4 separate regions of the Homo sapiens genome follow, and all the other regions are linked to region 2. Evidence: fine-mapped expression QTL. A gene starts in region 2. Each other region holds a variant in brackets. All regions are shown on one strand. Distances are between the middles of the regions. Region 1 overlaps LRRC7 (leucine rich repeat containing 7). Region 2 holds the start of LRRC7 (leucine rich repeat containing 7). Region 3 overlaps LOC105378789 (a long non-coding RNA gene). Region 4 overlaps LRRC7 (leucine rich repeat containing 7).

Evidence for each region. PIP is the estimated chance that this variant, and not a neighbour inherited with it, causes the effect.
Region 1: its variant is the best candidate, but not a certain one, in a credible set for the expression of LRRC7 in sigmoid colon (GTEx, PIP 0.71).
Region 3: its variant is the best candidate, but not a certain one, in a credible set for the expression of LRRC7 in tibial nerve (GTEx, PIP 0.53).
Region 4: its variant is the best candidate, but not a certain one, in a credible set for the expression of LRRC7 in thyroid (GTEx, PIP 0.59).

Annotation. Positions count from the first base shown.
Region 1 is chr1:69,637,093-69,642,247 of GRCh38, forward strand. The region is part of intron 1 of LRRC7 (leucine rich repeat containing 7); the gene reads left to right. Among named protein-coding and RNA genes, the nearest start is that of LRRC7, 72 kb to the left of the region's middle. The variant G/A (reference allele first, on the strand shown) is at 3,225.
Region 2 is chr1:69,565,549-69,570,703 of GRCh38, forward strand. LRRC7 (leucine rich repeat containing 7) reads left to right here and starts at 2,374. Exons shown (of 27, transcript NM_001370785.2): 1 at 2,374-3,093. The coding sequence starts at 3,092. LOC105378789 (a long non-coding RNA gene) reads left to right here. Exons shown (of 12, transcript XR_947488.3): 12 at 1-302. RefSeq lists a silencer at 1,798-2,027.
Region 3 is chr1:69,539,605-69,544,759 of GRCh38, forward strand. LOC105378789 (a long non-coding RNA gene) reads left to right here. Exons shown (of 12, transcript XR_947488.3): 4 at 5,037-5,149. Among named protein-coding and RNA genes, the nearest start is that of LRRC7, 26 kb to the right of the region's middle. The variant C/T (reference allele first, on the strand shown) is at 3,091.
Region 4 is chr1:69,607,422-69,612,576 of GRCh38, forward strand. The region is part of intron 1 of LRRC7 (leucine rich repeat containing 7); the gene reads left to right. It also overlaps the pseudogene SGO1P1. Among named protein-coding and RNA genes, the nearest start is that of LRRC7, 42 kb to the left of the region's middle. The variant G/T (reference allele first, on the strand shown) is at 2,926.

The sequences.
Region 1 (5,155 bases), 72 kb after region 2:
TCTCTTCCCCTCCCCCGCTCCCCCGCACACAGAGTTTATATAAGGTGGGTTAACTAAACACCTAGATTCAGTGCGGGGATTTAGGGTGGCATTTGTTTCATTTTGAGGAGGTAGGTTTTAAACTACTGAATAAATGTCTTTAATAGCTCTAAATAAATTTAGGTGGTTTTCTAATTCTTCTTTGAGTTTGTTTCACGTCAATGTCTCACACTGTTTTTATATTTTCCATAAAAAGTATTATTGTCTTTACATATTCATATTAAAAATAATTTTGTCCTAAGTCTTGGGGTTAATTCTACATAAATATTTGAGCATTGCAGAGTTGGAAAAAAGAGTAGCAATACAAGACTGCTAGTTAGAAGACCTGATCTCTTATCACATCCCACAACCCACTTATCACAACTAAACATGGAGGCTTTGGCAAGATATTTAATCTTACCAGTTCTATTTCTACCTAAAATTTTGGAAAATTGACTGGATTTTTGGGGAATTAAATGAGGTAATTTATTTAAAAGTCAAATAGTATTCCTCAGGGTTATGAAATACACGTTAATCTTCTTTTCCTTTCTTTTCTTTCATGACTATTTGTAAGCATCTATTCTGTTAAATAGCTTTACCTTATGTAATCCATCTCCCTGTAACTAATATATTTTACTTAATTACACAGAATCATTTTAATATGTCAACTGTTGATTTTCTAAAGGACAAAGAATGTTTTTTAAAGATAAGCAGAGACTTGATGAAGCAAAGCTGAATTTCTTAAGCCTAGTGCAGTAAAAGAAAATGCCACCTTGAGATAATCTTAGTATTAGTCCAGAATAGAAAGGTGACACATTTTTAGGGTTTAAGAGCCTCGCCTGAGATTTTAAGGCCAGTTTTGCAAAGAGAGAGAAAGGGTGGGATTGGAGGGCACAATGAAGTGAGTCTTGATGAGCAATATGTTAGTGTCAAGAAAAGAAATTTTGGGTTAGTTTACAGAATTATCTTTCAGAAGCAAATATTTCTTAGAGAATAGCCAAGTTTATTTTGTTTGTTCTCAATTTTAATATAAAGATGGGAAAGTATGCACTGTCTCAATGTTGCTTAATTTAAATACAAGAAAGTAATCCAGCTCTCAGTAGCGTTTAACACTATGTCAAAAATTATATTCATTTTAGTACTAAATATTAATCATTCATTTGGTCATTTCTAACCCTGTGCCTGAATACAGACTATTATTGTCTGGGAATAATTAATTCAGATCTGTACTTCTGTTTGATACGTCATGATCAAGTGTAGAATTTCTGATGGTAGTCATTCCAGTTTCTGAAAGTGGCATATATTCTTGTTCTTTTCATTAGAAAATCATTTGTTGCATTTTTAATGAGACAGAACAGTGACTGTGGAGCAGCACTTAAAACTGGAGATCACAATTTGATTCCTATAATGGATGAAATAGAGGATTAGTATCCTTGGAGTTTGTAGTCTGCTTGCAAGTTAAGAACCGAGAGTATATCAATTAAGCCAAGAGCACTCACCCCTAATCTGAAGAATCTGTAGAACCAGATATGGGTACATTAAATAAATTATCTAATTTTACTATTTCTTTGTTTTATGAAATTATTTTTGTTTTTTGGAACCATAGAGATCTGTTCAAATGAAAGTACAATGTTCTCCACCTAAGACAACACATATTCCACTTCAAGATTATTATTATATTTAAAGCAACTCTGTTTTGAATCACCACTTGACGAATTTTATGAACCTCTTGGGTGAGTTCTATGGTGTATTGTCTTGTTATCCTCCTAGTCTTTGCACTGTACTTTGTTATAGCAGGTAGCCATCTGCCCAATTTTCAGACCTCCAGTATAAAGAGTGAAACAAAGTGTGAACAAAGAGGCTTGGGCTGAAAAATTTAATCTAATCCAAAACTCCTTTTAGTATCTAAGTTTTTTAACTCAAACTGAAACCCAGTTTTCTCTTTCTAAAATTTTCTATTTTTTTGTCAAAGGAGGAAAACTGATGGTCCAAACAGGATTCTGGATAATATCAAAGACTAATTTAATGACAGGTATCAGTTTATTAAGTAACAGATCCTGTCTAAATTATAGGTAGTAACCAATGGGCTTTTGTGTCCCAAATTTAGTAAGAGTTATTAAAGGCTACCCAATGATCTGTTTCAGCCACAATAACCAAATGGTGTTTTTGTATTGTATTGTTCTGTCATGACTCATCAAGAATTATCATGCATTAGATAATGAAACTTTTAGTATATAGATCATTAGTTACCCCTAAAGCAAAAATGTAGAGATGAGCCTAAGTGGTATGGTTTTCTAATCACTTCTGTAAAAGTGAAACATCAGCCTCACAATTATACACCAGTACTTCTCTAGCTTTTCTGCAAACTCTATTTTTGTGAAAATTTTACTACCCAAACAAGCTCTATGAAAGGACTCTGAATGTTGATTCTGTGAAGACAGGAGCCTTCCTGTATAAGGACATCTTTAAAGGGGTTTTAGATTTCTGGCTCTCTGGCCCATGGCATTGTTTGCCCTCAATTAATGCTTTAGGAGTTAGATCAAATATCCAGGAAACCAAGTCACTTACTTTTATAAACTGGTATCAAAGGAAGCTGAGTAGAAACAAACTCAATGGCTAGATTGCTTATATATTTTAGCTAAATCATAAGAAATTAAATTCCTGCCAGGATTTGAATTATATCAATACCTACAAATGCAAAAACCAATATTAAGGATAGAAACTTTCAAGAATCATAGTTACCAGCTAAAAAAAAAATCGGTTAATAATCCACAACTTTAAAACAGGAAAGAGGAAAGAAAATAGCTGGGAAAATAAAAACGTGCAGTTTGAACCATAACTGTCTGTGACTCTAGATATCTGGTTCTTGTTCTGTTGGCATTAGGTGCAAGATATTTACTCCTTGCCATTGTCTACTTGATCTGAGGGTCTTTGGCAAAAACTTTATCATACTCTCAAAGTTTGTCCACTTCTGGAGGATTCCTAAATGTCTTCAGCTTGAAGTCTCCAGAAGGATACAGGTCTGAGGAAAAACATTCTAGCATTTTACTGTTGTTAGTTTTTAACGGTACCAGATAACATCCATTTCACTGTCTTAAGGGAGATTTTTTTTCTGATGTCTTTTCCACAAGATGAAATCTCTCAGAATGTTATAATGGTAGAAATTGAAATCCTCTATTTACATATAACACACAATTAATTCTTGA[G/A]GATGTAATCCATGATTGTCCTGGGAGGAAGAACATGTTATAAACAGTGTAAACTTTTTGACTTGTGTAATAGATACTTTTTGACTTGTATAATAGTGAGCACTATGATTGTTCCTGATTAGTAAGAATAATGAATTAATAACTCAGGAACAAAGTCACTTTTTAGACTCATTATGCATTGTTCTTTTTAGAGAACACAAGGGTGTTTCTGAGAAATACACAATCATTAAACATAGATATTTTAATTTATTATGTTAATATAAATAAATATTTTGTTATATTTATTTTATTTAATATAGGAGGACTGAATTTCTCTTTTGTCATTTTTTTTTAATTCTAACTTTGGTAAATAAAGTACCTGTAATTTTGAGTTAATTAAAATTTGAGAAATGAATCACAAATAGTTCCATTGTCTTTTCACTTGTAATATGGAGGAGCAAAGGTAATTCAGGTTTAAATGAAATCTTAAAAGTTTTATTATTTTTAGTTGCTACTTGAATTTGGAAAAGAAAAAATCAATAAAGGTTGTTAATGCAGTAAAATACTAACATAAGTCATAATATCTACAAAGTCATTATTGGCAATATTTCATAAACACAATTAAGATATTTATTAGGAAATTACCTTTCAAAAATAATGAAATTTTCTTTCAAAATGATTCAGGAAACAAAAAAGTTCAGAGGGTCAATAAAATATTTTTGGTGATACAAGGAAATTCTTTTACCTGGATAGAGAACTTGGACATTTTATGACAAGACATCCCAGATTCTGAATTTATTCCTTTATTTTTTCCATGTAACAAGTTATAGTAATATTTTATAACTTTTTACATTAGGAATAAATTCACTCACTCTGGAACAACAGTACTCAAAACAATTTTGAAGACAATGCATATATTTATTCCACTTACATATTTCTCATACATTTCATATATTTATTCATTCTCCATCAGCACTAGAAACCTAGACAAACTGAAATTACCTATCTCAGACCTTTTACATGGGCAGTACTTTAAGTTTGTCTTCTATTTTCTTTTTATTATAAATCTTTCAATTAATCCTTAATACTCTGTTTATTTATTTAGACATATACAAATATATATGAGTAGAGGGAAATAAAGGGTAAAATGAAAACTCTAAACATTAGCTTTAAGAAATAAATTAATCAGCATTCATATATATATTACTAAATTTATCATATTAATAACCTTTACAGCTTATTAAAATTACAAGCTACTTATAATTTGTATGCATATTTTTATTCCTATGGAAGCATTATAGCTAGCATTATCTCAATTTTTTATATTAATTACCACCTTTAACCAAAATAATCAACTTGCTTTTCGGGCAAAAGAGAACTAGAAGCTGAAAAATTAATAATTTTGTAGCTATATTTTCTATAAGCACACTTTTTTTTTAGAACTTAAACAAATTTTAAAATATATAATCATCAAGACATTTGTACATAGCATTGCTTGATAGCCAGTCTACATATAAAAATTTTAAAAGTTAATTTAAAACTGTATGGTGACATATGCCTGTATCTTTTCCTTAAAATTATTCAAGTAGTCAAATATCATTTATTAGTTACCTCGTTTTAATAATAGTAAAAAGTTTTAAGTTGAATAAAGATCTGGAAGTTATAATTTAAGCTAGCTGTTAGAGCTTCATGGTTGGTAGCATGGTAGCATTAAAATAATTCATAACAGTAAACCATTTAACTGATGCTTAATATTATTTCATGTGGTTGAATACAATTTTAGGTTTTTGTAATTTGAAAACCTTTGAGGAAGCAATAATAGTTTACAAGGCCTATTGCTATTATGATAATTTTATAAAGTTTAAATCATGAAATGTTATAACTAAATTTTCTTTTAATAAAAATACTATGCTAATGCTATTTTTACATGGGTACCATATCAGAGAGAAAAA
Region 2 (5,155 bases):
GGTAACTTCATTGGTAGGTATGCTGCCTGTATGCAAGGATCTGCAGTTACTCATAACTGGCTGTGTTTTTAAACAGAATAATTTTTGTCAAATATTTTGATACAAAACAATGAAGCCTGAAGTTAAAATAAGAAATTCTGGGCTCAAGTGCAGGGCAACTGGACACCCTTATGAGATGAGCCTTTGTGCCCTTCCTGTAAGTGTGGATTAGATTATCCACCACCTAGATTTAAGAAAGGATTAAATGAAAGAATATATGTGAAAGTACTGTGTTGACTGTATTAAAAAGAACTGGAAACCCATAAAGGACCGCTATAATTGTGTAATTGTTGCGCCAGGTTATTTTGTCAATACATTTTTAATCAGCACCTAAAATATTTCATGTCACTTCATCCAGCAGAGACATTGAGATGTGGCAAAATGTTTAAAAGGACAACACTATAGGTGAAAAAAAAACAGAGCACAACAGTAGTCAATTCAAAAAAAATTCTTTTAACAATTTTATTCCATTTCCTTGCCATTTTCAGAGCCCTTTCTTTTGGTGTTTTGTAACAATATAAAAAACGATCTGGCTTTTCAAAATATACTCCTTTTCCTTTCTATATGCAAATGATATGAAACACTGGCAAGTTGTCCTTAAAAGTCAGCCCACCTTCATGGCCCAGATAAAGTGGGCAATAATTCCTCTCTAGGTCCTCCGCACATTAGGTGCCAGTCTCTCAAGTCTCTTCCTAGACAATTTCTAGCAGCCAGGAAACATAATTTTTGACCTTGAAGACTTTAGCATTCCAAATCTAAGAATACAATCAGGTGTGTTTTCTTTTGGCAAACTGTGAGCTTACACACACCCCCAGAGTGGCATTTGAATGCTGTGCACAGTCTTGACTGTGTTCGAGGTTAGAGAACTAAAGACAAGATTCTTTCTCTCTTGTAATGAAGAAACAAAAACCACATAGCCTATATTCCACAAAAGAATACCAGCATAATATATCCTTTTTTAAAGATGTAATTCATTAGATGTGTGTAGAGAATAAAAGTGTAAATATAGGCTGGGAACGGTGGCTCACGTCTATAATCCCAGCATTTTGGGAGGCCGAGACAGGTGGATCACCTGAGGTCAGGAATTCGAGACCAGCCTGGGCAACATGGTGAAACCCCCGTCTCTACTAAAAATACAAAAAAAATCATCCGGGCGTGGTGGCACGCGCCTGTAATCCCAGCTACTCGGGAGGCTGAGGCAGGAAGATCGCTTGAACCGGGGAGGAAGAGGTTGCAGTGAGCCGAGATCGCGCCATTGTACTCCAGCCTGGTCAACAAGAGCGAAACTCCGTTTCAAAAAAAAAAAAAAAAAGTGTAAATATAGTACTAGCTTCATTGATATGTCTTGCTGCTTCTGGGACTTTAGAGAAGCGTATAAGAAGAAAGTGTGTGTGCCTTTACGTAAGGGAGCATATGAGAGAGAGAGAGAGAGTGTGTGTGTGTGTGTGTGTGTGTGTGTGTGTGTGTGTGTGTGTCAGAGAGAATGTTCATGGCAGGAGGAGGGGCGGTGAATATATGAAGGGAAGTTGGGAAAACCCTTCCCTTTTTGTGCACTCCCAGGGCAGCAGCCGCAACCCCAGAATGAGGAGAGGACTTAAGAGCAGGCACAAGGTTCGCTGCCATGACTGATGTGAAGCGACCTGACGCACAAGCGGAGACTTTTCTCCTTGGCAGCCAACAACCTGCAGCAGGCAAGGCGGGCGGGGGAGGAAACCCCGAGGAGGCGCTCCCGGCCGCCTCTTTGCTGAGATAGCAGGAGCAGCAGCCTGAGGAGCCACGAGCTCAGCGTCACTGAGCTAGTGCGGGTGCAGGGGCGCTCAGGCAGGCGCACAGGCCGGGAGCCGCTTCTGCCGCTCAGGCGGCCGCGCTGCAGAAAGCCGCGCCGCGCTGCCCGAGCGCCCGGGGCTGGCCCGCGAGCGGGAGGAGCCGGCAGCCGCGCTCCGCCCCGCGCTGAGATTCGTGCCACCTGCCTCGAACACCACGGAGGCGAGAGGAACCCAGAGAGCTCGGCCTCTCGTCCCGTTCTCGAAAAGCAGCCTATCGTGACGGAGCCGGGAGAAGGCTAGCGTTTCAATCCTGTGCAGGACTGGGATTTTTCTTCTCATAATTTGGGGGAGCCGGAGTAGAGGTCAGAGGGACAGGCGAGGATCTCAAAAAGAGACCGAGGGTTGTGAACATGGTTACCCCCTCCTATCATTGGAAAATCTCCTTGACATTTTTCACACTTTGAAGCAGCTGCAGCTGGTGTCGTCGGAAAAGGGGGTGGGAAAAAAGAGAGGGGGCGGGGAGAGCGGTGAGACACAGCCAAGAGCCATGAGCGGCGCCTCCTCGCCTGCCAATCCTGGCACCTGTGCGCCGAGCCACTGCACCGAGGAGGACCCTACTCCGGGTGAACACCGGGCTTGAAGCCACGGACACCCAGCCCCAGTGCAGCGGGTTCTCGCCGGCGGGACCTGCAGCCGCCCACTCGGGCCACCGCCACCGCCTCCTGCAGTTGCGGAGCGCTCAGCCCCTCCGAGACGCCCGCTGCGCCCTGGCCCCTGGGGATCCTCGCCCTGCACAGGCGCGGCAACGGGCAGGGGTTGTTACGGAGTTGGGTGCAGGATTCGCCTTTCCTGCTTGTCTCTTCTCCGCCCAGGATTTATTGTCTGTGGAGCCTTCTGGGGGCGGGGAGGGAGCTGCGCCTCCGCCACCGCCGCCGCCGCCGCCGCTGCTGCTGCGGTCGCTAGCGCGGCGCGCTGGGCAGGCTGAGGCTGGGGAGTGGACGCGCTCCTGCCTCCCCCGCCGGCGCTTCGGGCTTCCCCTCAGCCGCTTCCCGCGGGAACCTCTCCAGCCGTCCACCTGAAGGGCACTGGCATCATGGTCTAACGTGGCACCTTCCTGGATTCCCCTCTATCTCCTGTTCTTCCTACCTTCTACTCCTTCCCTCCTCTTCTCCTCCGAAGACCCTGGCGCCCACTCCACTGCGGACCCCTGAACACTTAAGGAATAACCCTTGGCAGCTGCACGACTACGCTCTCCGAAACCTCATGGGCAGTTTCTCCCGCCGGCGATGTGAGTAAGGCACGCTCGCTCCGTGGCGGAGGGTGCTGCGGGGGCCCGGCCGCGGCGACCGTAGGCGCGCGAGGTGTGGGACCCCAGAGGCCGGCCGGGGGCGGGGGTGGCAGGGCGGGAGGCTTCGGCGCTCGCGGGGAGCTGCTTGTGCGGTGGCCGAGGGAGGCGGCGAAGATGTGGTAGGTTGCAGAGCATTTGGAAATGGGGTGCTAACTGGGCGGGTGCATGGGAGCACCGAGTAGCTTGAGCTGGCAAGAGACCTTAAAGGGTTACATACTGCGAAAAGGAAAGGTAAATGTTGGGCGCTGGTGCTGGGACCATTGGTTCCGCTGAAATTAGGTTTAGCTCCTCGTTATTATCTTGGGTATCTCCAGTCAGCTTTTTTCCCAGAGGTGTCTGAGGGATGAAGCGCGTGTTTGATCGTGACACACACACACACACACTCACACACACTTGTGGCAGGACGCACTTGTCTCTTTATCTTGGAAGGTGTTGTATCAATGTCTCGATGTCTGTTTGAAAAAATACAATTAGAAGATTTTTATGTGATTGGGATTGAAGGGAAAGGGTGGGGTTTGGGGGGATGGAGGGGACGAAGGAACATGAAAGACTGGAGGACGGAAAGAAGTGGGGGAGCGTGTTCCCTGGGAGTCAGGGAGAACCTTGCCTCCCTCCCTGTCAGCTAGACAACTCCTGCCCACACATCTCCTTTGTGTGGCACGAGAAGCTGGTGAACCTGCCTATTCCCAATCCAGCGCTGGGTCCCCTTGAGGATCTTGCGTCCTCCTCTCCGAGTTATTAAGGATGCAGGACGTGTTTCGGATTCGACGTGGAAAGAGGGAGGGAAGCACATTAGCATTAAGGTAATCATGGCACCCTGGCTCGTGGACTATTAGATTGGCTACCAGTGGTCTCTAATCTTACTGTTTGCAGAGTCAAGAATGGGGGCGGGGGTTGGGGGACTGTATAGATTGCCTTTTAAAATAGTGTGACTTCATAATAACGGAGATGGCTGAAAGATTGCTTCCTTACACTACTTCTCGGCCATCAGGGCTGAATAAAGGACCCGCCTCCGCCCTCTACTCCGGCTCTTCTCTGGCTGTCTCTTCCCCATCAAGTCATAAAGCGAGCGGGTTGGGCGAGAGGGCACAGCTCGAGGCAGAGAAGAGACGGGGTCACTTTCACAACTCCCAGGAATCGGCTTCAGAAAGGAACCATCTGCGACTCCCACGTTCCTTTCGAAGTTCTCCTTCAAAAGGAATTACAAAAAAAAAAAAAAAAAAAAAAGCGATGGGGGTGGGGATCGGTAAGACACAGGGGTCCTCCCCCTGCTCTTTTCAATTACTTTCCCAATACTCTTTCAACACATCGAATTTACCTGCAGTGGTAACTGGGTCAGCAGGTAAATAGATTTGTATCTGTATATGTCGAAATGTGGCTCTCCTGGTGGATGAAAAGCAATTTTTTGTGAGCATATTCTAACCTAGGCGAAATTTCTAAGCACAATAGAGATTTTTATAGCGTGGGCGAGAAGAGTGCATTCCAGCGAAAGCAGGACACGTGATCCCTCCAACGGGTGAGATACAGTATTAGGAACTCGATTTTCTTTGTTCCAGCCTGAGCCTATGAGATGTTCAGCATCCTGGTTGCTTAAGTCCTCCTATAGAAGGAAAATAATAATAATAATAATAATAAAGTTGATCGGAGGCGAAATAGAGGGAAAATAAGCACAGGTAGACATGCGTGAACGGTTTGAAAGCTTCGCCTCTGCCTTTTTTTACCGCCCACCCTTCACCCCCACCCCTTGCTCCAGCCAGCCCCCTATTTTAAAATGAGGCATTTCCTCTGGGAGACGGTGGAAAAGTTCTCCAGCCCCTGCACACGTGGGTTCTCCAGCACTTCAGAACCTGCTGTGATTCGCAACAGATTACACCACCTTCCCAGTCCAAGTGTCACGCCTCCGTCCAGGCTTCCTTGAATTGGCTTCCAGGAAGGACTCTAAGGGAACTACCACGAGGTGTTTTTTGTTTGTTTGTTGTTTTTTGTTTGTTTGTTTTTACAA
Region 3 (5,155 bases), 26 kb before region 2:
TATTTAAGTGTAAACGCATACTTTTTTACTCCTCTGTCATAAAAATCATGCTCACTACAATATTTCCATTAGTCTAGCTTCAGGGAATGGAAAATGGAGGGAATATTTTCTCTGGAAGGAGTATTCTATGGATGAAAGGAAATCTGGTCAAATCCTGGGGAAGTGGAAATTTCGCCTCTTTGATTTCAGATAGATACTTGGAAGGACAAGAGATCCTGAAGAGGAGGAATTAAGCGACGGGATGTGTGTGGCCTGTTCTTTCATTTCCAGCCTAAAGTAGGGCTGTTTGCTATGTAGGTGAGGGGAAATTCAGGGGCAGAAAGGCCATTCTGTCATTGGTTTTAGTAGGGAGAACCTCCTGCAAAAGTATTCTGCATAACCAATGGCAACTATATTAATGTGTTTAAACAAAGTCAAGTCAGTGGCATCATGTGTTTGGACAGAGGCTAACAAGAGTTACCCGTCCAGTGTCAATTCCAGCTTGCCCTGTGGGTTTAGCAGGTGGCCAGAAGTTCCAAGTGGCCTTCGAGAGGCACGCAAAGCTGCTGGCTAGCAAGCTTACCCTACGAGTTGCTGTGACTGGGAAAAGTAACTCTGCAGTTGTAGATTAGGGTTCAGTTAAGGTACATCCAGACCTCAAGTGCTGGTGAGGACTAAGATAGGGTCGAGTTATCAGGGAAGACAACAGGCCCTGGCCAAACTCAGAAAAAACATCATATGCTCACCAGCTGCCAACTTGGATAGTAAATTTTAGCTGAAAGAGCAGTGACCAAGTAGACAAGAGAGTAATCGCTACAGAGTCCAAAAGGAACACCCATAGATACAGGGCTCTCTTTCTAAGACAAGAACACAGTAATCTGCTATAGAAATCCAAATGCCATTTGCGGGAAAAGCAGAAGTTTGCAGAACTGTGAAAAACTGAGCATGTACCTATAAGAATTTAAACTAATTTAAACTAAAAATTATTACCACTAGGTAGTTTGTAAATTTAAAATGATCTTTAAAAATAAAAAGCAACTCCCTAACTACCCAGAAAAGTGAGGGTGAATTAGAAATATTAGATTTGAAAATATTTTAAAAGTTCGCATTTTACACTTTACGTGATTGTGCTGAGTGCATTTAAAATGGCACCAAGAAATTCCCCAGATATAATTACAGCAAAACTCTTTCTTTCTTTCTTTGTTTTTAGCACCCATTAGCATGCAATAGAAGAGATATTCTGAGGAACTTACTTGATTACTCTCTGCTCTACAAATTTATTTTCATGATAATTTGCTTTCACAGTTTCTGAATTACTCAGGTTTCTCCAGAGAAATAGAACCAATAGGACAGAGAGAGCCAAGGGGTGTGTGGAGAATAGATATATGCCTGGCAAGTTCACATCTGATCCGAAATGTGGGCCAGTAGGCTTGAGACCCGGGAAACCTGATGGTGCAGGTGGAATCTGAAAGCAGTTTGCTCAAGAATTTTCTCTTCCTTGGGAAGGCTGGGTTTTTTGTCGTATTCAGGCTTTCAGTTGATTGGATGAGACCCACCCACCTTACAGAGAGCAATCTGGTTACCCTAAATTCACTGGTTTAAGTGTTAATATCATCCAATAACAGTTTTGCCCTCATCTTTCTGCCTTTTCATTTGCAACTTCGTCCACAGGTTCCTTTTCCCCTGCTAACTCTCGTTTACTGAGACATCTACTCTTGGTCCCCTGCTCCTTTCTCTCCACAGTCTTTTCACTATTTCATCTAGTCTCACAATTGTAATTGCCGTTTAGACACTAACAATGTAAATCCATCATACCTATGATGTCACCTTTAAGCTTCAGGTGCATATATTTATATTCTAGCAGTACCAATTCATTTGGCATGTCATAAACACAGATTCAACAGCTTCCAAATTAAACTCTCCAAATTTCCCTTTTCCCACTCCACTCCTTATTGCTACCTGCTAACATTCCGTCTATGCCTAATTCATCCCCTAGTCCTGCTGACATAATCTCAGCATTTTAAAGTTGTAACAACTTAGCTGGGCACACAAAGCTCTGAGTGACCTAAAACCCATTTTTTTCTAACTTCATTTTTTGAAATACTGAAGTCTGTACACATGTTTTGTCTCCATACCTTATTTCAGGGTTACTCTTTGGCCTAGAGCACTATCCCATCTCCTGTTTATTCACCTGGGTAACCTCTTTTCAACTCTGGATGTCGTTGCCTGAATCTGCAGACAGAATGACGTGTTTCCCTGTCTTCCTGTGTTCTACTCATTTCCCTCTGCTTGTCTAGCAGAGCACTGACATTAGAAGGCTCAAAATTCTACTCTCAGGGCTAGAATGACTCTAGCATGTTCCTGCTCCTTGAGAGCAGAAGCATTCTACATCTTTCTAGCCTTAGCACCTATCACAATGCCAAGGAGAGAAGGCGGTTACAAAGATTTTTTTTTTAACCTTTGCATTGAATGTACAGGTTAAATTGGCTGACTTTAAAAGGTTTCTGAAGAGCAGTAGTTCTCAGACGTTAAGACCCTTGAATGTCCTTAAGGTCTTTACAAGTAATGTGAAAAGCCAAAACTATTTTCATAATAATATCAAGACATTGTTTGCTTTATTCATTACATTGAAATTTTCACTAATGGTGCAAGAGCAATGGTCAGAAAAATTGCTGGCTTTAAGGCAAGAATCAAGGTGGTGGCCCTGAGCTATACTGTTAGCCATTGCATTTTACCACACACTTTCATTTTAAAAATAAAATTACATAATAGTCATACTAATAATAATAGAATATCAGTTTCACTTAAGAATGGTTTTGATGAAAAAATAAAAATTATTAATTTTATTAAATGTCAACCTTTGAATATACTTCTTTTCAATGTATCCTGTGGGAGAAAAATGAGAAAAATGCCAAAACACTTCACTACATAACCAAACGTATTTGTATCAAGAAAAGCACTTATGTGATTGTGTAAATTGCAAGCTGAAATAATCTCTTTTCATAGAGCACCATTTTAATTTGAAAGAATGACAAATAGGCAAACTATAGCTATTCATACTTGGATATTTGGCACACATTTTCTCAAAAATGAACAAAGACAGCCTGACAT[C/T]TCAAGGACAACTGACAGTATTGTTGCCAGTAATAAAATTTGAACTTTCAAGTGAAAGAGTTTTGGAAAACTTACATCTGCTTCTGTGAGCTTGACAGCTTCCCAAGACAGACTTTCCTGATGAGATCAGTGGCAATATTAATAAATATGATGTTTATTGCATAATGAAATATGTCAACATTGGAAGATCTGTATAAATGAGTAAACTAATATTTTTAAATGAACATGCATGACAGTACAAAATTATACATGAATAAAAGATTCATTCAAAATTCAAGAGAAGCCAATGGATTTTGTTGTAACAGAATACAGAAAATCCAGTGATATGGTTTGATTGTATATTGCAACTACCTCTTATAAAGTACCACATGTCAAGTTTTAGAGTACTATCAAGGAAGAACATACAAAATTATCTTAAAATATTCATTCTTTGCCCAGCATGGTGGCTCATGCTTGTATTCCCAGCACTTTGGGAGGCCGAGGTGGGCAGATCACTTGAGGTCAGGAGATTGATACCAGCCTGACCAACATGGTGAAACCCCTTTTCTACTAAATATACAAAAACTAGCGGGGCGTGGTGGTGCATACCTGTAGTCCCAGCTACTCAGGAGGCTGAGGCAGGAGAATTGCTTGAACCCGGGAGGAGGAGATTGCAGTGAGCCGAGATCGTGCCATTGCACTCCAGCCTGGGCAACAAGAGCAAAACTCCGTCTCAAAAAAAAAAAAAAACTAAAACAAAACAAACAAACAAAAAAACTCATTCTTTTTCTATTCACATATTTATGTAATGACTTTGTTTATACACTTCAACCAAAAAATATACAGCATGGATATAACAGATAAAATAACCTAGCTGTCTTCTATTAAGTTAGACATTAAAGAGATTTACAATAATATAAAGCAGTGCCCCTCTTTTTAATGAATTTTAAAATTTGAAATATATCATTATTTTTAACAAAAATATACTATTTATGTTAACATGTAACAGGCTTATTAATGTTATTTGAAATGAATTAACAATTTAAATTTGTTTCCAGTTTTAATTTCTAATATGGTAAATAAAGACAGGTATAACACATATTTTTAAATCTCTTTATGATCCTGAATGGTTTTTAAGAGTGTAAAGGGGCCTTGAGGCTGGGTGCAGTGACTCACTCCTATAATCCCAGCACTTAGGGAGGCCAAGAAGAAAGGACAGCTTGAGCCCAGAAGCCTTGGCAACATATAGAGACACTACATCTACAAAAAAAATAAAATAGAAAAATTAGCTGAGGGTAGTGACTCATGCCTGTAGTGCCAGCTACTCAGGAGGCTGAGGCAGGAGGATCACTTAAGCCCAGGAGATTGAGGCTGCAATGAGCTGTGATCATGCCACTGCACTCCAGTCTGGGTGACAGGGTGAGACCCTGTCTCAAAAAATAGAAATAAATAAATAAAGGTAATCTTGAGATCAAAATGTTTACAACCACTGCTATGGTAGTATTTACCTTAAGCTGTGAACAACTGACATAGATGTATTTTTAACAATACCACTGATTCCTAAATTGGTTACATTACTTAAATATTTATTTAAAAATATATTTAAAGTAATTTATTCTGTATGTTTTGATATTCAATTAGACCACTGGTTAGAGAGGTGTATGGACCACTGGTTAGAAAGGTGTATGCAGACCAATCTTCAAATCCTGGCTCCATGACTTAGATGCATTAGGAGTAAGGAAGGAGAGAAAAAATGGATGTCTGTTAGAGGTGATTGAGAGAGCGTATCACTGTTTCCAATTATTGTGAGAGGATTTGATTTTGCTTATGGGATAATTTGACTTTCCTGCAGTCATGACATCAGGAATGGCCATGAAATTTGCTTTACCCAATGAAATGTGAGTTGAAGTGATATATGCCAATTCATCATGAGGTTCTGACGTTTTCTTTTTCCCTCTCCCACAAAGGCCCCCAAGTCTCATACAGGGCTACTCCTTCAACCTGGGTTCCAGAAGGAAGAAGACATGGAGCAAAACTGTATGGACAATGTAATGTGAACAAGAAATAAAGCATCATTTTTGTAAGA
Region 4 (5,155 bases), 42 kb after region 2:
CTCCCAATATTTTTAGAAAGTTTTTTTAATTTTCATTTTTCTTCCCTTTATACCTTGATATACATTTTGATTGGTTCCTACTGTCACTTTTTCTGCCTTATGCATCTCTAAGCTTAGCTTTAGCTTGTTCATATTTAGGATCAAAAATGACTACTTTTGATTTATAAGTCTTCCTAGGTGAATCAGCCTTGATGATGGGTTAATTTTGTCCTTATTTCATTGAAAAACATTTTGTTCTACATTTTCTAGTGTGTGTGTGTTTACTAGAAGCCCAGCAAATCTAATTTTTTTCCCATTGAAAAGATTTTCCTGCCAAATGATTAGATTAGGTACAGTTCTATCAAAGACATTGTCAGTAGATTATGTTCAACTAGAATAGTCAATATCAATTTTTAGTTTGTCCTGAGGAATAGCAGGTATTGATTCTTCTATTTGGAATGACATTCCTTATCCTAGAAGGTCAGTTTCCTGAAGAGGAACTTGTATAAACCCTTCCCAAATGAACCTTGGAGTTGTCATTACTGTTGGAGTCCATTTCAAAGGGACATATTTCCTGGTTTTGAGCACGATCTTCTGTTTCTTCTGAAATACGTTTATCTTTTGAAGCAAATAGCTGACGTGGGAGGTAGTAACGTTCTTTTCTCATGTTGGATGATATCTTGGACTTACCTCACTTTGGGTTTTTCATTTCCCAAATCTCAAACTAACATTCCATTGTTGTCCAGCTAATTTTCAATAATATACAAGTGTCGGTGATTATTTAGCATAGCATATCTACAAAAAATTTGTCATTTACCAATTTCTGCCAAGTTTTTCTTCATTTCTTTTAGTCTTCAAGGCTAATCTGAAAGGGCTTTTTTAGGCATCTTTTCTTGGCCATTTTCTCTTTCGGCCACCACCTCTGCCACAGCCCTCCTTTATATTCCAAGGCTCTGCAAGCCTATTAGCATGGACCTGTGCCCCAAGACTATGGCATCATCTCCAGTCACCTATGACTTCTGCAAGGGTATTTAGAATTGTCTGCTGTAGTTGCCCACTGGCTGGCTGAGAGGTAGTCACATGAGAAGATCATGCTGCCAGCCAGTGCAGGCAGAGCCTAACTCAGCCAGTCAGTGTCCCATAACACCTTAAAATCACTTAACAAAAAAGTACCACAGACCAGTCACCTTGCCATATTCAGTTCCTAATATAATTTCTTTACAGCTTCTTTAACAAATTCAGTTATATTTGTTAAGTGCTTAAACAGGCTGTACATTTTGCTGAGTGATTGACATACAGAAGTGGACAAGAGATGTAAGAACTCTGACCTTAAAAATCCTGTATTTTACCAAATATTTTACCTAAGTAACTTTAAAGTAAGAACTGGCATCTCCTATAAGTTGCTCTGTCTGTCTCTCTCTCTCTCTCTCTCTCTCTCTCTCTCTCTCTCTCTCTCTCTCTCTCTCTATATATATATATATATATATATATATATATATACACACACACACACATATATATAAAATTATATATATATAATTTTATACAGAAAAAGATATATTTAACAGGAAATATGTTCATATTACCTAACATGATATGATTTTATAAAATTGGCATTTCTCCATGGAAAAAAAATGTCCAGATAATGGGATATTTGAAATATGAGCAGAGACAGCTTGAAAGCACCCAGCTTTGCAGTTTGGATGGGAGAAAAACTAGTCTGTAAAAGCAAAGAGAAAGAACAGAGGGAGACTATGGACTCCACAATTTGACCTTGGGCTAATTTGTTTATTACAGTTCTTAGAATATTGCTTTTGATCTTTCATCAGAAACTATGATATACTCCAGTTATTTAAATCTGACTCATGTCTACGTATTCATAAAGGTGATTAATTAGGCAGAACAGTGGTAGGAAATGATTTAATATGTTAATCTATATATTATTCTAATCTCAGCTGATGACAAGTTTTATTGTATGAAATTGAGATGAAATAAATTTATTAGTTTATCTTAATTTTTTTCATATATATACATAGAGAGAGGAAATAAAGTAAAAGTGCAAGGAAGAAAGAAAAAAATAAAAATGACCACCGTTTATCAGAAATGAATACTGATGACACTGAACTCTAAAGATATCTTGTTAATATGTGTACTATTATAATTACCATCTTATGGATTAAGAAGTTAATGCTTAAATGAGTTTAATATATGTGATGGTGCTCAGCTGGTACATAGAATGGATGCTATTTGAACCTGTCTGCTTAAGTTTAAAGCCCTGTTTTAGCCAATGTGAGAACTGCTCTTCTAAGTTACAATTTTTAATGAGTAATATATATCTACTTTATCTGTATTTTCTGATATTTAGATTGTTTCTTTTAATTATACAATGCAACAATAAAACATTGAACATTCCTGCCCATTGTTTACATAGAATAATGCCTAGAAATGAGATGACTCATACAACCGGCATTTTATAAGCTGTATTCCAGAAAATTTTTCACAATTTTTATATTTATAACCAAAAAGTAGAAAGAATGTTAAAATGGACCCACTATGTCCAATCAGCTATCTTCAATAGTGATCACCATTTTATTACTCTTGTTTCACCTATGTTGGTATTTATTTTGCTTACTGTAATATTTTAAAGAAAAATCCTGATATAATACCATATAATTTCACCAACAAGTGTTTCAGTGTATATCTCTGACAGATAAGAACCAAACTCTATAATGGGTTCTTGTCTCTTTCTTTCTTGCAATTTATTTGTTGAAGAAACAGGATCTTTTTTTCTAAAAAATATTCAATACCCTAAATTTGACTAATCCTTCACTGTAGTGTTCAACCTGTTCCTTTTTCCCTCCTTTTCTCCTGTGAACTGATGGTTAGATCTAAAAGCTCAATGAGATTCAAAATCAGTTTTTCTTTGGCAAGAATATTTTATCTATG[G/T]TGCTGTGTACCATGTCAGGAAGTATCATAATTGCATGACCATTTTCAGTGAGACAAGATTGGTCATTGGGTTCAGGCACATGTCCTTTAGTCTGTGTCTCCCACTTCCTTTTTCTCCCCTTAGCCTGAAATTGATGACTTCTTGTTGTTTTCTATGTCTATGATTACTAGTAATTTGATTTTTTAAACATGCTTATTGGCCTTTATAGTGTCTTTGTAAATAGCTTCTTTGTCTTTTGTTCATTATAATGTTTGCTGTTGTGGAAAAATAAATATTTTTGTTGTATTTTAATGTAATTAAATTAGTGATATATTTAATTTTTTACATAGGACATTTTTAAGAGAGAGCACTTTTAAAAATATGCTTAATGTAACAAGAAAACACATACAAGATTGGTAAGTATATTCATCTCCAGGGCAAAAATATTTCACAAACATAAGAAAAAAATACTTTTCTACACCAAATATTTTAACAAATATAATTTTCAATAATAAACATCTGCAGACTGAGAATTACATACCAACAGTCCTTGATTTCTTAATGAAATCTATTGTAGGAAAGACCATTGCTTTTCTTATTAAACACACTTAGGCAAAATGCAGCTTTATGATGACAAGATACAAACTAGATATAAATTTAATTAAAGTATTTTTATAAATATACATAGTATTTGCTAAATTGAATTCAACAAAAGGCAAGTAAACACATTGTGTTTTCATTCTCAAAACACTTTTGTCAACAGCTCTTTTAAACTTTAAGTTTCCCACTAATACTTTTGAAACTTTTGACCAATGATTTTAACTATAATTTATCAAAAGCTAAGTTAAAGTCACACCACTTTAATATACTTTATTTTCCCACCTTTATCTTTTTTTCATATATCGTCAATATTAAACCTTTGTTTTCCTAAGTATTATAAGTATTTTTCCTAGGTTGTCATTTGCCTTTTACCTTATTTACCTTATTTTGGTTTTATATAAATTTTTTTAATATGTGAGATAGTATAGGTCAGTACAATAAATTCTAATTCGTGTTCTATCAAGTTGTGTTTCATGAAGTGATAGTTGTATTCTGAAATGTTGCTACAGGAAATACTGAATTAGTGAGTACCGAGTCATTGCTCTTAGAGGAAATACAAGTTTAGTTTCCTGCAAGCCTTTAGCCACAACATGTTCATTAACTGATCAAAACCTAATCTTGTTTTATGTGTTTCTGTTTAAAGACACTTCACTTCATACATTTTGCTGATTAATTAATGTCGAACTCATGGCCAACAATGCTATAACTCATGCCTGAATCAAGCTTACCTAACACACACATTGTCTCCATAAGGCACATGGAACCCTTTTTGCTCTTAGCAACACTAGACAGTACTTCAGCACTATGTTTGATGGCTGTTTTCAACAGTGGAATCTCCAATAAAAAAAGCACAGGAAGCAACAATGTGGCACTAAAGATCTCAAAAAGGACATTTGTTTATAACATGATGACACAACAAAGCAAAGCATCACCTTAGCCAAACTCAGCTGGAAATGTGCACATCGAATGACTCAAATATTTTACCATTTTCTGCATGCACATGTCCACAAATGACCACGGAAGTGTCACAAGCATTGATTTTGAGGTACAAATTAATTCTTGCCAGTAGGAAGCTACATAAATTTGTAAGCTATGCATATTGAGGATCGACTGTAATTTCCTTCACGATTTTCCCTTTGCTTTTCTATGCCACCCACATTTAATGATGTCTTAGAATAATTCCTATGCTACCCTAATATCATTGACTTATATTGCATTAAAAGTGAATAAATGTATTTAAGCAAACTGAAATTAAAATAATATACCAAACCAGTGTTTTCTGCAATAAAATAGTATACTATATATTTTTCAGACTTAAGAATTAATGCTACTATATCAAAACTTGATCTGATATGAAATTTAAAAATCATCACTCATACTTTCTTGCAATCAATAATAATTATATTTTATATAACTTTCTATTTCATTTCGCTAGACTTAGTATCCCAATAACTTGAAAATACTTGAATGCTGATGAATTAAAGACAATTAGGTTACTGGACATTCTGCTGTATGCTTTAATATACTGGGTTTTATTACTAGAAAGTGGCTACAGCCTAGCGTGAATGTAAGAATAATAAAATATTCTTACATTCAATATAAGGAAGGTGGAAGATTAGGTTTATTCTAAAACTCTTGTTACTGTCATAG